Regions from separate parts of the Homo sapiens genome. Here region 1 is linked to region 2. The links come from fine-mapping of genetic effects on gene expression. Tissue or cell type: tibial nerve. Region 2 holds a variant in brackets; the other region holds the start of a gene. All regions are shown on one strand. Distances are between the middles of the regions.

Region 1 (8,107 bases), 230 kb before region 2:
TCTGGTAGGAGACACTGCCGTTGAGACCCAGGTCGGGGTCGCGAGCAGACACAGAGAGCAGATAGGCGCCAGGCGTGTTGTTCTCCTGCACAATGACCTGGTAGTAGGGCTTGGAAAAGTGCGGGTGGTTGTCATTTTCGTCAGTGATGAGCACGGTAAAGGACTTGGCACTCTGCAGCATGGGCACGCCGCCGTCGCGTGCCTGAATTGTGAGGTTGTATTGGTCGTGCTGCTCGCGGTCCAGCCGTCCGTCCACCAGAATAGTGGAGAAGCTCTCATATTCCTGCAGTCGAAAGGGCACATTGCCCAGCAAACGGCACTGCACACGTCCATTGAGGCCTGAGTCGCGATCAGACACCCGCACCAAGGCGATCACGTAGCCCGGGGGGGCGCTCTCGCTGACCTCCACAAGCTCACTGTTGACTGACAGCAGGTTGATGACCGGCGGATTGTCATTGGTGTCCAGCACGCTGACGGTGACCTTGCAGTGTGCCGGGATGGAATTGGGCCCCAAGTCCTTAGCCTGCACGTCCAGTTCGTACACGTGCCCCTCTTCGTAGTCTAAAGCGCCAGTGACAGTGACCAGGCCACTGTGCGGGTCGATCTGAAAGAGCTCGCGCGTGCGGTCGTTGACGTAGCCATAGAAGGAGTAGACCACCTGGCCGTTGGTGCCCTCGTCTGGATCGCTGGCGTTGAGGCGGATGACGGGTGTGTTGGGAGGCGAGTTTTCTGGCACGCTCACCGCGTAGGTGGACTCGCTAAACACCGGGTTGTTGTCATTGGAGTCGGTCACCTTGATACTAAGGCCAACGGTGCCCAGGCGCGGCGGGTCGCCACCGTCTAGCGCAGTGATTCGGAAGCTGTAGTGCGACTGCGTCTCGCGGTCCAGGCTCTTTTCCACCACGAGTTCGGCAAAGCGGGAGCCGTCGCCGCGCGTCTTGATCTCCAGGCCGAACAGCTCGTTGGGCGTGAGCTCGTAAGTCTGCACGCCAAAGCTTCCTGAGTCTGGATCGTAAGCGCTGTCCAGCGGGATGCGCGTGCCAGGGCTGGCTGCCTCCGAGATCTCCAGCTCGATCTGTGCTGCCGGGAAACTGGGCGCATTGTCGTTCAGGTCCTTGATCTCCACCTTTATCACGCAGATTTCCATTGAGCTGGACATGACCTCGAGCGAGATGATGCACTTGGGGCTCTGGCGGCACAGCAGATCACGGTCAATCTTCTGCTTGGTGACCAGCAGGCCAGAGCTGGGATTGATGTCCACTAGGTGTGGAGCCGAGTTGGACACCACGCGAAAGGCTGAAGCCTGCCGGGGGTCCAGCGCGAAGCCCGCCTCTCGCGCGTCTTTGGCCACGTTGGCAATCACCGTCCCGGCGCGCTGCTCCTCTTCTACCGAGTACTTGAGATTAATGAGGGCGGCAGCCTGCGTCCACAGTATGGCCAGCAGCAGCAGCACCGGCAGCAGGAGCGACTCCATGGCTGCACGGGGCTCTGCCTGGCCTCGCCTCTCCACACCCCTCCGAGACCGACGCCGTCGGCGCTCCAGCTTCCCGCCGGCTCGGGCCGCCTGTTGCGCGCGCCCCGTGGCCCCGGAGGCCGCGGGAGAAGTCCCGCCCAGGGCGGCCCGGCGGCGCGCGGGGGACACCCGCGGCGGCTCCAATGCTGAGGTTGCGGCGGACGCGGCGGGGGCTCGCGGGGGCCCCGGGGGCTCCGAGGGGCCAAGGGAGCGCCGCGCGGCCCCGAGCCCCCTCCCTCCAGCCCGGCTACTCAGTTTTACCCCTTCAAAGTTAGCCGGGCGCGACTGTCGGCAGCCGCCCAGGGCTGCGGGTCGGGCGGCGTCTGCGCGGCCTGGAGGACGCACCGCTGAGTCCGGACAGTACTTGAGGCGAAGGTAAAGAGGGCGGAGGAGGCGCAGCCTTTCAGGCACTGCCCGGCCCGCCGCGGTGCACCGGCACTGAGGCTGGCGAACTCGCTGTCTGTGCACCTGGCATGCGCAAAGACCTCCCCCCAGCGCTCCCAGTTCACTGCGGAGAGAGTACCCGCTTGGAATGCGCCCTCCGGGGTCTGGGGGGGCCACACTGGCCTCTTCGAGGCCTGTTCGGGAGAAAGGGGGTGTCGCAGACGGGAGTCAGTTACTGGCAAGCGCCGCGGGCACCCGGTTATAGGGTTGAGTCGGATGGCGGTCCCGGGGCCAGCAGAGGAAGGGGGAGGGGAGAGAGGCTGCCAGAGCTTGAGCGCGCTCCCTCGCGCTAAGGCTGGCTTCGAAGGGCTTGGGGGCGCGTCTGTCCAGGATCCGAGGTGGGAGCGGAGTTCCCCCCACAGAGCAGTTGAGGGTCTGCGGGCGTTTTCGTCTAGGAAATCAAAGTTAACAACGCAGTCCGACCCTCCACGTCAAGTTTGTGGAAACGGGGAGATGGCAATTTGTCCAAGAAAATCAAAGCCCCGGTCTTTCTAATGGCCGGGGGTGGCGGGGAATGGGGAAGAGGGAAGGGGAGGCAACAACAGTACCGGCCAGGAGAGGCGGGGCCGCCGCCGTGGGTACCGGGTGCTTCTCTTCTCTCCGTTTGGGCTGGGGTGTCGCTCCAAGGTCCGCCGCCGCCGCCGCCGCCGCCGCCGCCGCGGGAGGAAGCCCTCCTAGCTCAGTTGCACGTCGCTGGGGTCCGCCTCAGCAGCTGCCACAGTCGACGATTTTGTCGCCGCCGAAGTTTACTTGCAGGAGCGTCTTGATTTCATCTTCCCGGAGAGGCGCTGGCCGCGCTGCGTTGGGCTCCCTTCCTCCCGGGCGCTCGCGCACTCGGGAGGTCTGTCTCGCTTTCTCTGTCTGTCTCGGGCTGTGTGTGAATGTGTGAGAGAGAGAGGAAGAGTGAGTGTGTGGTGTGGGGAGTGTGAGTGTGGAGTATGAGCAAGCAGGAGGCAATGGGTTTGGGGTAGGAGGTTTAGGATTTCGGATGAAATCGCTCAGCCGGAATGCTGCGGAGCGCAACGCGCCAAGGGCCAGCGCCGGGCTAGGGACGCGGGTGCCAGTGCCTCCCGGGCAAGCCAGGCATGGTGCACGGGAGCTGTGCTGCCGTCTGTGCCCGCTCGTCCGTCTCCGCGCTGCGCCAGCCGCCGCCGCTACTGCTGCTGCTGCTCCTCCGGATGCCGCAAACTACTGGCCGCGGAGTCTGGAGAAAGCCGGAGAAAGCTCAAGCTGCCGAGCCCGGCTACGCCAGGCCCTGGCCAATCAGCGCGCCGCCAGCGGGCTCCAGTCTTGGGGCGGGGCCAAGCGGAGGCGGGGGGTAGCGGGGGGGCGGGGCCAAGCGGAAACTTCACACCGGCGGGACCAAGTGGTACCCCGGCCCATGGAGCCCTGGCGGGATTCATGGGAGGACGGACAGACAGGCCAGGCAGGCCAGGCAGGAGCAATAGGGCAGGAATGAGCAGGGAGGCGGTGTGCTGGCGCTGCGGCTGAGCCTCGCCGGGAACTGTGCGCTTCTCATGTTTGCAGAGATTTCAGGAAAGATGAGGATGATATGATTGTCTTATCGTGTTTACCTCCCTTACATATCTTCATATCTTGAATATAATATATACATATATATACACATATATATATATATACACACATATATATATCCCTCTATTTCTCCTTGTCTCTTCACCCTAAAAAATCGTCTGTTTTTGTTTTCCTCTCTTCTCATTCTCTGGTAGTGGAAGGAAGAAAGGGAAGGAGAAAGCGCCCCTGAGGTGGTCATTCATCCAGCTCTTAGCCGGTGTGTCTTCACATCAGGCCAGAGCCACGGCCGCCACCCCCCCGGACCGTCACCCCCATCCTTCCACCCCGGGCAGACGCCGCACTACTCTCTGCGTGCCGCACTCCCAGCAGGGCCCCTGGATCGGTTCGCTCTTGTCTGTTGCTTGTTAATCAAATGGGATATGTGGCACAGAGAATGAGCTACGGAGGGGGCCGGACACATTTCATTGCCCCTCACCCCACCCTGTTGGAGAATTTAGCTCCCTATAAATAAACTGTACGTTTGAGAAGAGCCGGTGGAGCGGACGCCGCCGCGCCGCGCCAAGCCAGCAGAGCTCAAAGCCGGGCAGGAGCTCTGGGGCGGGCACGCCATACATGTCCGCTTAGGTCGCCGACAGCTGGGAGCCGGCGCCGATGTGCAGGGCGCCCCAGCCTTCCCGCGGGGTCTCGGTCCCAGGGGGCTGCCAGCTCCACTTGGGCGGCGGTGGTGGCTGCGGCATGTGCCAGTACTGGGAAGCGGGAGGCCGGCGTGGCCAGGGCTGACATCAAGCTCATCCTGCCTTCTGCACTGAAGGCTCCCTGGGGGCAGCGGGGCATTCCTCCCCACCCGGGCTCTGAGGCTTTTAATTAAGGTCGCCAGCGGCAAAAAAATCAAAAACGTGCCCGTTAAACAAGTTTTTTTTTCTCTTAGAATGTGGGGAAGCTGCTTCTGAATTCACAATTCTTGGAAGAGTAAAAATGTCTTCTGAGTGAGTCGTCTCGGATATTTGGGAGTGGGATAAGCAGACTCATAATTAGCCCAGCGACATTGGCTCGAGCCTGTGGGCTTCACATGAGCGTCATTTTTGCCCTCTAAAAAGCGTTAAACAAGAAAAGGAAACCGGCATTTGGACACATAATGGGTTTTCTCAAAACTGCCATCTTCTTGTGGAGAGCAACCCAGCTGCTTTTTAAAATATTTTTCCTTCCAAGAAGAGCTACTTTAGCAGCCTTTACCTTGGCGGTGGGAGAGGGGAAAGGCGGCTTCCTCTTACAGAAAGAAATTATTTCGCGAGTGAGATTGCGATCCCCTGAATATGTAGCCGAGGCCAAAGGGAGAGCGTAGGGAGCCTGATCCGCTTTCCGCGTGGGGGTCGTTTCACTGTTTCACGTTAGGATGTGATTCGGCCCAGAACAACAGGGAGAAAACCGATGCTTCTGCAATGAGTATCATTTAATTTTGGTCATTTAGAGCTGCGGGTGGACACCAGAGTGGTGGCTCAAGGGAGCCCGGTGGCCCGACCGGTTTTCTCCAGACACCGTTGGAGAAATGGGCAAGTAGTAGAGAATGACAACATGGCAGGCAGCGGTGGGCGCACCTCGCGGGCTCCGCGAAAGGAAGGGTTCCATTTGATTTATCACAGTTATTTACCTTTGATGTCAGAGCATGGGAATGAAGTGCATCTTGGTCTAATTAAAAAGGCCTAAAAAGGCATTTGAAATGGGTTTGCTATCTGATCACGGGATGTGAATTCGGCGTTTGGCAGCTTTCTAAAATATTGCTTGGACTATTTAAACAGAACAATTAGCAGCATGCTAAAATGTTTGCATGCTATGCTTAGAAGCTTTTAGCTGTAAACTTTAAGGCGATCTGTTCCCCCTTTAAGTTAAAAAAGGATGATGCTGCTTCCTTGTGGCGAAGGCTGTCAGGAACCCACTGATCAATAAAAGTAAACTGGCGCCTCCACGGCTTGATTGAGCGGGAGCAAAGAGTCTGAGAAGTAGTCTCGGCCATTAACAATCCCCCAGGTAACGAGAAATGGAAGAATTACTCAGGTAAAATGATTAACATTGTCGTAGCATCTGAAAAGATGCACACAACAAGATAAGAAGACTGCAGACCTCTTACCTTAGGGAGTGCTAATAGAATGTCTATATTCTGCTGTCTTTTAAAGATAAATAGGAGAATTCAATTCATGTACAATGTCATTACCTTCATAATTGCAATCACAATGTAAAGACATGTTCTGCATTTGCAAAGACAAACCCTCTTTGCTAAGGCGATGCCACCGTGTTCCCTGCTTCCTGCTCGCTGTTCACACTCCAGGCACCCCTCTTTTCCAAGGAGAGCATCCAAGTACTTCCAGCTACCAAACCACTTTTACACAAGCCAGGTGCTAAGGGAGGCAGGGGCGTGTGCCTATGCTTTCCTTCTTTCCTATTATCTCCTCCCCACCCCTAATCTCAAAGTGACAGTTACACAGCCTTCCCCATCCCCACACACAAAATAGCTCTTCCATCCCCCAGTCTATTTCTACAGATAATCCTAACAACAGCCTTTGCCCTCAGAATTTCTTTTTTTCTAATAGGCACACTCGATCATTATACTCCAAGAATGCCATTGACTAAATGAGTAGCCCAAAACACTTTCATGATCAGGAATTTATTAACTAACTGAATAAAATCGTTCTGCATGTAGATAATAAAAACAAGAAAGTTCTCTCCGTTTTAGCTTCCCTTTACTTCAATCCTGAAGGGAGCCCCGCCTCCTCAGCCTCTTTAGAGACACAAGAGGGACATCTAGTGACCATCCTCAGTATTTTTTAATCCAACAGCTACTAAGAAATACTAATACTAATGGTGCTATGCCGCCTACGGCTGCTCTCCAGGTCAAAGCAGCTCCACTGAGGCCAGAATCAAAATTGGCAAAGAGAATTTTTTTTGTCTTTAAAATGTCATCCATGCCACTAAAATCATGCTGAATGGCAATAAAAGAGGACCAAAATGGGAGAAATCTTACTTTTAGATCAAACCAGTATGTGAAGCTAATTCTTGTTCTCCTAAGATTGATAAGGGTATGGTGAAAGGTTTTGTCCAGAAAGGTGAAAAGTAATGGTAGGAACCAAGATACCAGTATATGAGGGACTGTAACTCTGACAAGTTTAAGGAAGCTTTCTGAGATGTGTTTGTTTTGTTCTGTTGTTTTAGAGACAAGGTGTCATTCTGTCGCCCAGGCTAGAGTGCAATGCTGCAGACATGGCTCACTGTAACCTCAAACTCCAGGGCTCAAGCAATCCTACCACCTCAGCCTCCTGAGTAGCTAGGATTATACAGGTGTGCACTGTCACACCTGGCTCATTCTTTTCATTTTATTTTTTGTAGAAATGGGGTATCTCTCTGTTGTCCAGGCTGGTCTCAAACTGGCCTCAAGCAATCCTTCTCCCCTGGCCTCCCAAAGTGCTAAGATTACAGGCATAAGCTACTGTGCCCTAGCCTGAGATATGTTTTTTTTTTTTTAATGTTTGCTTTAAGCTCAAAAGAGATTAGCCTTCAAATAACTCCAGTCTCTCTCTTTCTCTCCTCCTCCTCCTCCTTCCTTTTGCCCCCTTCTCTTTGCCCTGGCTGCAGAAAAGTGGGTCATCTTCTAGCTTGGCTTTCACTGCATATCATGGGGATCCCATTCCACCCAACTAGTTTGACCAGCTGCCTGATGAGGTTCTCTTAGAAAGAAAAAATTGATTTTAAAATTAGCAAATTCAATCAAACTTCTTCTGACTGCATATCTGATCTCCTTACTTAGGTTACAATGCCTAGAGAAGAGAACATCAAAGAATGAAAATGGAGGAAATGGGAAAAAAACTATAAAGTGTCATTATTAAAGTCATCATCTTATTTAATTTTTACAATATCCCTGGGAGATAAAGACACTTTGCAGATGTGGAAACAGTTGCAGAGCAGTTCAACGATTTTCCAAGACGACCTCATTACACAAAACTCAACCACTTCCCTCGTGAGATCAACAAGTGTTGGCTTTTTGTCCAGCATTGTGTTAAGGATTGAGAATTTTTTTTAGTGGACCTTGCCCTTATGTAGTTTAACATGCAGTTGATTAATTTAATAACAGCATGTATGTCTATGTACTATAAATTTTCCTAGAGGAGAAACTAGGATGAGATATATTATGTCGACAGCTTCCTAAAATTCTGTTCTCTTCTGCCCACAATGATTGCCCGATTTCTAGATAGTCCTTCCCTCCCTTCCTGCCTCCCCCGCCACTGTCCCAGACAGTATAAGGAAAGGCATCAACAGCAGCAATCAGGGATGTGGACCTGCTGGGCAGGGGTGGGGTTATCCTGGATGCTGTTTCTAACCCTTCTGGAACACCAAGAAGACTAGGACAGAGGCCAAGAAAAACCTTTGAGGTCCCTCACACTTTTCCCTCTCTTCCTCTCAAACTCCACCCCTTTTCCTACCCTGTGACAGAGGATAACATTAACAGCAGGGAGCTGTAGCAGATAAACAAAGTAGAGAAAGTGTTTCTTAAGTGCTAAAATTGTTCACCATGGCCCCGATGCCTGCCTTTTCCAAGAAACACAAGAGATGTGCGGGACAGTGGAG
Region 2 (8,107 bases):
TCTCGAATCTGACCAATGGTCATATCTTTGACAGCAGCAACATGTATAGTAATTAACTTCCATGGTACAGTCCTGTCCTCTAAGGGGTATAGGTTAGCTGAGGGGACTACTAAGCAAAACATTAAAATATATGATGAGAACCACTACAAGTTCAAAGTGCTGTGGGAATATGTATTTATCTGAGTGGCAATGCAGTATTGCTGTATTCTGCACCCTGCTAATTTTTCTCCACTTTAAACTGAGTTCAAATTCGATGCCTATGGAATTTGTAAGCTACAAAACCTTACTTTGGGAGGCTGTGCTACCACTTTATGAGAACTCTCATTAATGAGCCTTTGCTACTCACCGAATGTTATTTGAACAACCCCAAGTTTACCTGTTTTCTAATTCAGTATTAAGCTTTTTTTTTTTGAGATGGAGTCTCGCTCTGCTGCCCAGGCTGCAGTGCAGTGGCGCGATCTCGGCTCACTGCAAGCTCCATCTCCCGGGTTCATGCCATTCTCCTGCCTCAGCCTCCCGAGCAGCTGGGACTACAGGCACCTACCACCACGCCCGGCTAATTTTTTGTTTTTTTTTGTATTTTTAGTAGAGACAGTTTCACCGTGTTAGCCAGGGTGGTCTCGATCCCCTGACCTCGTGATCCACCTGCCTCGGCCTCCCAAAGTGCTGGGATTACAGGCGTGAGCCAACGCGCCCGGCCCAATATTAAACTTCTGATGATTTGCATTAAGTATATCCAATCTTTTCAAAATGCAAGGCATAAGAAGGTTATCAATTTTGTGCTTTGAATATTTTCCTATCAGCAAAGTTATAAATTGTACTATCTCCGTTTTAATAGGTATTTATACACAGAAAAACGACAGGGAATATAAGTAAGTAATTTTCTTCTGGTGACTATCAGTCTTTACAATTTTCTAAATTTTCTTTTAAATTAGAAGTGGACCAGAATTTTTACAAGAAGGCCATTATTGTCAGCTACAGGTTTAAATACAGAGGTCTGACTCTTCTACTTTAATAAATCCATTTTTATCTCTCAGAGGATAAATGTAACATGCTAAGCTTCCCTAATTCAGGCTTACCTCATGTCTGAAAACAAATCCTACGATGGCAGCGACCAGTTCGACCAAAAAAACGAGAGTCAGAAACATTGCATACTGCAGGATAAGAAAGAAAGTCCAAGTCAGCATAAATAAGATATAGCACAACTGCAAAGGGAGTCAAAGAAAAAATAATGGTCGTCTTCTCAATTAGTTCATCATGTTTTCATTGAAAAGGGCAGGGAAAATAACAACATGTCTATTTTGAAAGTGGAAACTGGCAGCTGAACTGTTACTTGATAAGTTTCCATAAGGAACAGGAAAAATTGTAAAGGGCCATGGCCAGTTCCAACAAAGGAATTCTATAACATACAAAACTTTTCTAAAACCAAGAATCAATTCTAATGAAAACAAGGACTCACCAGTTTTAGCATCCATGCAGAAGCTCGGCAGGTAGCAAAACAACCAAAGGTGCCCAAAAGAATAATGACGGTACCAGTAGCAATGAGCACGAAGGGGACATTGGTGGCCTTCTCATTTAAAAGAGAAAAGTAATTCTCCAGGCTCACCTTGCCCCAAATGCCAACTGCAAGAAGGATAACGCCAGTGATCTATGTGGGAATTCAGAGAATACAAACAGTTACGCACTGTGTACAGCAGCATCTTCAAATCACAACGCATGAGGTATTTAAGGCACAATAGGTGTAATATGCTGGGATACGGCAGACAAGGGGGAAGAGTAGAAGGGGTTAGGGGGGGATCTGCACACAAGAGCAGGCTGTGGACCAGGTATCTTATCAAAATTCTTAAAATTCATCTTTTTGTGTGTAAACACAAGCCCATGGCATATTTGCCCTAGGGATCAAAACTTCCTTAACTATCTTACTCCAACCTTAGGAAGAAAACCTTGAAGGGGAAAAAAAAAACGTGATTTTATGAGTTCCAGAAACTTCCCCCGTCCTCTCCAGGTAGGGATGGGCACAGGGTACAAAGGACTGGTACACAAAAGCAAGCCCAAGGATAGACTGGCGGGAGTGGAGGCATACCATACTTACCTGCGAAACACTCCTCTCTTACGAAGCAGTGAAAAGAAAGACACTATTATGCAAGTGAGCCCTCAAAGGGGCCGGGCAAGCCTTGCTTGCCTTTGCAAAGGTCCAGGGTCACCGTCTGCGTGCTCTGGGGGCTTAAGGCCCCACCTCGCCTCCCGTATCGAACTCGAACGCTGGTACGTCTGGGTCCCAGCTCAGCCTCTCGGCTGCCTTCGTCCCGCACTCCGACCCCAGCGCCGGCGAGATGCCTGAGCTCTTTGTTCGGGGCCCAGTCACTGGTCGCCGGCGTCGGGGTCCCAGGCGCGATGGCCGCCCAAACCCCACACCGTTCCCGACCTGAGCTCCCGCCGCTCAGGGTCACACCCCCCACAACTAAAAGCCCGGGATCCCCTGCCGGCCCCAGGCGCCTTCGTCTCTCACCCAGAAAATAAAAGTGTAGATTAGCAGAACGCTCTTGAAACAAGTAATGACTGGTTTAGTCTGCAGTCTCCGAGACGGGGACGCCATGACTAGCCCGAGACCCTGCACCACCGCACCGGGCGATTGGAACACAGAGAGCGAGACGCGGAGTCCCCGAGTCTCCCCGGAAACTGCCGAAAACTTACGAGCGTCCACAACTGAGAAGGGCCGGAAACACTGTACAATTTTGTAGAGGGTAAAGTATGGGAGGCTGTCCGGAAAGTGGCAACAATTTCAGAGCGCCCCCTGCCGAAGGTTACCGAAAACTATATACAAAGGTTCTAGTGTCGGAAATTTCATAGGTCTTCAAGTGGAGCTTTCTTCATTGTTTTTTTTCTATCCTAAGGAATCTTTCCCGCCCCCCACCCCTCCCCTCTCCTTATAACTTCACCATATTGTTTCTATCACCAGCAGAGCCCGCAGCGCTCTGAGATTGGGCCTCCCTGGCCCCTGGTGCCCTAGAGAGAAGGAAAAGAATGAAGAGGTTAAAAGCGACCTAAGAAAATACATGGGAAAATACCCACAAGAAATATATTTGCAAAAAGAAAGCGGATTGCAAAGCAATACATACAGTCACGTGTGCTTAGACAAAAACTGAAAGGAACAGTGAAATTTACCTCTGGTGGAATTAGGCTGATTTTTTTCTCACTTGTGTGCTTTTCAATTTGTGAACATTGTTTTATGGGTTAGGAAGGGGAGATGTGAATGGAGGAAAATAATCACCACTTGTTGAAAGAATTTCTAAGCTAGGTATTAAAGATAATAATGACTTTAGAATTTACCTGCAGGACTTTGCAAAACCCCAGTATTCCTCTCCTTTTTTATCCCCTAAGTAATTGGAAAGTTGAGGGAAAGTATTTTTACATAATAGTGAAATGTAAGTTCAGCTATTCGCTGTAAACTTTTAAAAAGAGAGAGTGCAATGGAAAAATCCCTGGTGAGTGTGACCTCCTCTTAAATGTTAAAACAGAAAGGCACTGTACATTCCAGCCACCTGGTTTTTCCCATCAAAACCCAGCTGATTACAGAGAGATTAAAACCTAATGTTATATATTGTGAATATATTGGTCTATGTTGTTACAACACAGGAGGTGCGTTAAGGTCTGATTTCTCAACTAAAGCGTCAGCTCTTTGAAGGCAGAGACTGAGTGTTAAGTGAGTTTGTGTTATCTCTAGAGGAACGGGGTTAGAAGGCTGTATCAGTTCCCTATGCAATCCAACCCTTCATCATTGACACAAGCTTAATATCACAAGTGGCTATTTACTCTATTGCCATTGCAAAAAGACCTGCATTTGTGGAGGAGAGATGAATACTCAAACTTTTCTGCTTGAAACGTTGCTTTAAACATACACCTCAGGACCAGAACACAGGAAAGTTCCATTGACTTGGTCACACAGAGCTTCCCTGTGCTTCGAATATTGACCTAGGACCAGTTCCTATAACATCTTGCCAGACGTCTGAGGTGCAAGGCAGCAACTGTTGGAAAATTAATTATTGCA[T/C]TGCCAGGCTTTATACTAAAATTTTTACTAAAATTTGAAAGGCCTAATACACAAATACATGGAGAGAATGGATAAACGATACATCTACATACACCTTCAAACACTTTGAGGTAAAGTCGTTAGGAAATACCAAATATTCAACATGGTGGAGGGGGGTGTCTAAGTATATGCAAAGATTTCTCCCTAGGCTAAATGACCCCAACTGAAGGGTTCTTATACTAAAAACAAGGATCAAGGGAAGTCTTGATAACTTCTTGTCATCTTAAAGAGAAGTTTCTCTGAAACTTAGATATGTACTGAAAGGGATTTACAGTGTGAGCCCAAGAGCAAAGAAATATGTCTGTAGCTGAAGAAAAAACAAAATAGCAAAGCAAAAGCCACATCTTATTTCCAAGAATGTGTTGACTTTCCTCCTCTCCCTTCCTCTACCACTCACAACGCTGCTTTGTTTGAATAACACTCGGTGCCAAATTAAACCAAATGCTGACATGGAAATTCATATTCCTATGGCTACAACACCTTGCACCATTGCCTCCTACTCTGCTACACCCACTTCCATCTCCCCACCCCCACAATGCCACCAAACCGAGAAATTCAATTTAGTTCAAACCTAGGCCTGGGTTTGGGTACAAACCCAGACCAAAGGGGCATCTAATCCCGTTTAAGGCAATTTAAGAAGTATTTCCCTAGGCCACTAGATAAATGTATTCTTTAAAGTATTAATAATGACTGTGATAATAAGTATTGACTGTATACCAACCACTATTGCTAAGAGCTTGATACACATTACCTCGTATGCACACATCACAAGAACCCTATTATGAGGTTGACACACCTAGCACCTTCATTTTACAGATGAAGAAACAGGTTGAAAGAGACCAAGTAAGCTGCCTAGGACTAAACCTGGGCAACTTCTGTGTCTTTCATCAGAAATGGGGCCCACTTTGTGATGAAACATAGCTGCTGTTGTACGTACAGCTGCCTCTGCGCAGAGTAACCTGAGTAAAGACTGCTGTTGCACAGACATTTAACCTAAAACAAGGACTCCTCGGAGCCTCTGAAGCTTAAGAACCTCAATGATTGCCCCAATTCTGCCTTGCACTTGGGGTTTTTTGGTTGAGTTTGGCTTTTGCCTTCACTCCAATAGCCCAGCCACCTAGGAAGTAACCCTACCTGCCCCAGAGTGGTAAGGCAGAGAGTTCAGTACTTTTTCTTGTTCAACCTCTTAATTTCTCCCTCTTTCTGAGCACAGAAACACAATTTGATGCCAACAATGTAGGAAAAAAGGAAAATACTTTAAGTATTGTTACTGCTTGTTTTACATGGAACATTTAGTAGCCCCCCTTCCCAATTAATTTCCTGTAACCTTCAAGATTAGGTGTAAATGTTTTTCATTGCTAGACATCAGGCAAGGGAAATGACATAAACAAGGGCTCACTGTTAAGTCAGACCTCCCTTGTGCCACCTCCAGCCTCCCTCCATCCCTACCAAGCCCCTCATCCCAATACAATCTCAACTGATTTCCTACTGCTTTTCCAATGTGAATTTTCTGCTCTGTACCAGGTCAGTATGATCAACCCCCCAATTAAACAAGTCCTATTCCCTAGTCCCTGCCCACCCTCAACTTCACTCATACTTTCTGCTTCTACTGAATATCCAGTTCAATCCCAACTCAGTAAAAAGTCCCTCCTTCCTCACCTCTTTCTCTAACACCATAACTGTCTTAACTACACACTCACTCCCATTAACCCAGCCCTTTAGTCAATTACTGCAATATCTGCTTTGCATTTCTACTTACCTATTCTACATCCTACCGTCTAGATGTTCAGAAACTACTGAAGAGCTAGTGTGGCAGGGCCCCTATGCCCCCTTTTATACTCTCCTCAGTACCCTAGGACATAATGCCCAATTGATGAGTTCATTTTCTGCTCGGCCAATCCCTGTTGAGCTGATTGCTCATTGAGGTCATAACTGGTCTCTGGGAGCAACCACATAGTAATTACTCAGGATTGATTGTTGAAATTAAATAAAAAATTAAATGTCTAAGCCATCCCAGTATCACACTATAATAAAACAGAAAAAATTAAATTGAGTACCTAGATAATGTCTTGGGACATTCCTCTCTCTCTCAGGAACCACTAAAATAATAACAACAACAATAATAATAATAATAAACTGTATCGCTGAGTGTACATCTTATCTCTTATTCACATAATAACTTTACCATTTTCATTTTCTAATCCCTTTTCTAGCATCCCTTCAATTACCTTTGGCTAAGTGCCTATCATAGAATTTAAAGGCGCATCCTACTTATTTTCTTAATATCTCATATTTTATGTTACAGCCATCAGATACCTCATTATTTAAACAGTTAATTCATATGTACAGTTTTAAAAATCCATTTCGTTAATGGAATATCTCTTTATTTCTATTGTCTCTTGTGCATTCCCATTCTCCTTCTCTGAAATTCTATTCTTTGTCTATTTTTATGCCCTTGTTTTCCATCCACTCCTTTCAGATGCTCTGTGAAACCTTTCCTCCCTTTCCATCCCTGATCTTGCCTTCTTCAAAAAAGCTCATAATATACAGTTTGGGACACATAGACATGATAAATACTTTTTTTTTTTTTGAGACGGAGTCTCGCTCTGTCGCCCAGGCTGGAGTGCAGTGGTGCCATCTCGGCTCACTGCAAGCTCCACCTCCCGGGTTCATGCCATTCTCTGGTCTCAGCTTCCCGAGTAGCTGGGACTACAGGTGCCCGATACCACGCCCGGCTAATTTTTTGTATTTTTAGTAGAGACGGGGTTTCACCGTGTTAGACAGGATGGTCTCGATCTCCTGACCTTGTGATTCGCCTGCCTCGGCCTCCCAAAGTGCTGGGATTACAGGCGTGAGCCTCCGCGCCCAGCCATAAATACTTTTAAATGGTATTAAAATTGACAATTCTATGTCCATTTTCTAAGAAAGTTGTTTCTAGTCTAGCCTTGTTGAGCTTTCCTGAGATCTCAACTAGGGAAGTCAGTTTCCATATCTAATATTTCGTAAAACAATACCTTATTTACTGCTGAGGGGCTTCATATTAAAAGTCTTAAAGTTGAAAATGGTACTGAACTTTAAGAAACTTAAGAAATTGAGTATGCCTGGATGCTGTCAGTCTCCTTATCCACCTTTGTCTTATCCTCCCAACCAAACCATAAAGAGAGGTGTTTTATTTTACTTTGTAGCCTCACAGTATCTAACGTTGTGTTTTACACACTGAGTATGTGCTGCAGAAACATTGGGGTTATTATAATTAACCTCACTTGTTTTGGGTGAGCTCTTTATATTATTAATCCCAATGCTTTGCAAGAATGCTGTCTCTCTCTTCTGACATATCCCCTTACTTTGATCTCCCTATGATTTCCATATTCTCCCCCTTCACTTTCTTCTTTAACCTCTCTCTGGAACCCTTCTGTCCCACTGCTTCCAGCTTTCAGTGGGATTGAGGCCTTACGCAGCATCTTCACCCTGGCATGTGCTAGGCTTTGTGTTGGATGGCTGGGGATATGAAGAAGACTAGGATAAGGTTCTTGCCCTTATAAGCACTCATAGTCTAGTAGGAGTCAGAGATAAGTAAAGAACAATGCCAATAAGTGTGAAAAGTCCTAAAATTGAGATATGTACAAAGTGCTGTGAGAGAAAAGGAAGGCAAAGTTAACCATCTTGGGCTGGGATGGGCTGGGGGAAGGTTCCTAGCAGCAAGGGTGGGTAGAGTTCCAACAAGCCAAGAAAGGAGGGAAGGGACCATGGAGCAGAGTGAACACGTCTGTGCAGAGGCTCCAGGGTGTGAAAGGAAGAACAAGAAGCTCAAGGAAGAGCATGAGGCAGAGGGTGTCCAGAATGAGGAGGCATGGGGTGAATGCTTAAAACTAGGCTAAGGACATAGGTGGGGTTTGCTTGTGAAGAACATGGTATGCAATGCTAAGGAACTCAGACCGTACACTATGCCAAGAGGGAGCCAGTGAGGGGGGTCTAAGAAAGAAAAAACTCTGGTAGAATGTATTACTTTGCTTGTTCCCT

Which allele goes with the higher level. Positions count from the first base shown, and alleles are read on the strand shown. Sizes are in standard deviations (SD) of each study's normalised expression.
In carriers of allele T in region 2, the expression in tibial nerve of the gene that starts at base 3,150 in region 1 tends to be lower than with C alone (small effect, 0.21 SD a copy in GTEx).

Evidence for each region. PIP is the estimated chance that this variant, and not a neighbour inherited with it, causes the effect.
Region 1: PCDH19 starts here. The variant in region 2 is fine-mapped to the expression of PCDH19 in tibial nerve (GTEx, PIP 0.99).

What each region holds. Positions count from the first base shown.
Region 1 is chrX:100,407,124-100,415,230 of GRCh38, forward strand. It overlaps PCDH19 (protocadherin 19), which reads right to left and starts at 3,150. Exons shown (of 6, transcript NM_001184880.2): 1 at 1-3,150. The coding sequence starts at 1,474.
Region 2 is chrX:100,634,099-100,642,205 of GRCh38, forward strand. TSPAN6 (tetraspanin 6) reads right to left here and starts at 2,708. Exons shown (of 8, transcript NM_003270.4): 1 at 2,510-2,708; 2 at 1,460-1,648; 3 at 1,080-1,154. The coding sequence starts at 2,596. RefSeq lists enhancers at 1,672-2,287, 2,288-2,903. The variant T/C (reference allele first, on the strand shown) is at 4,049.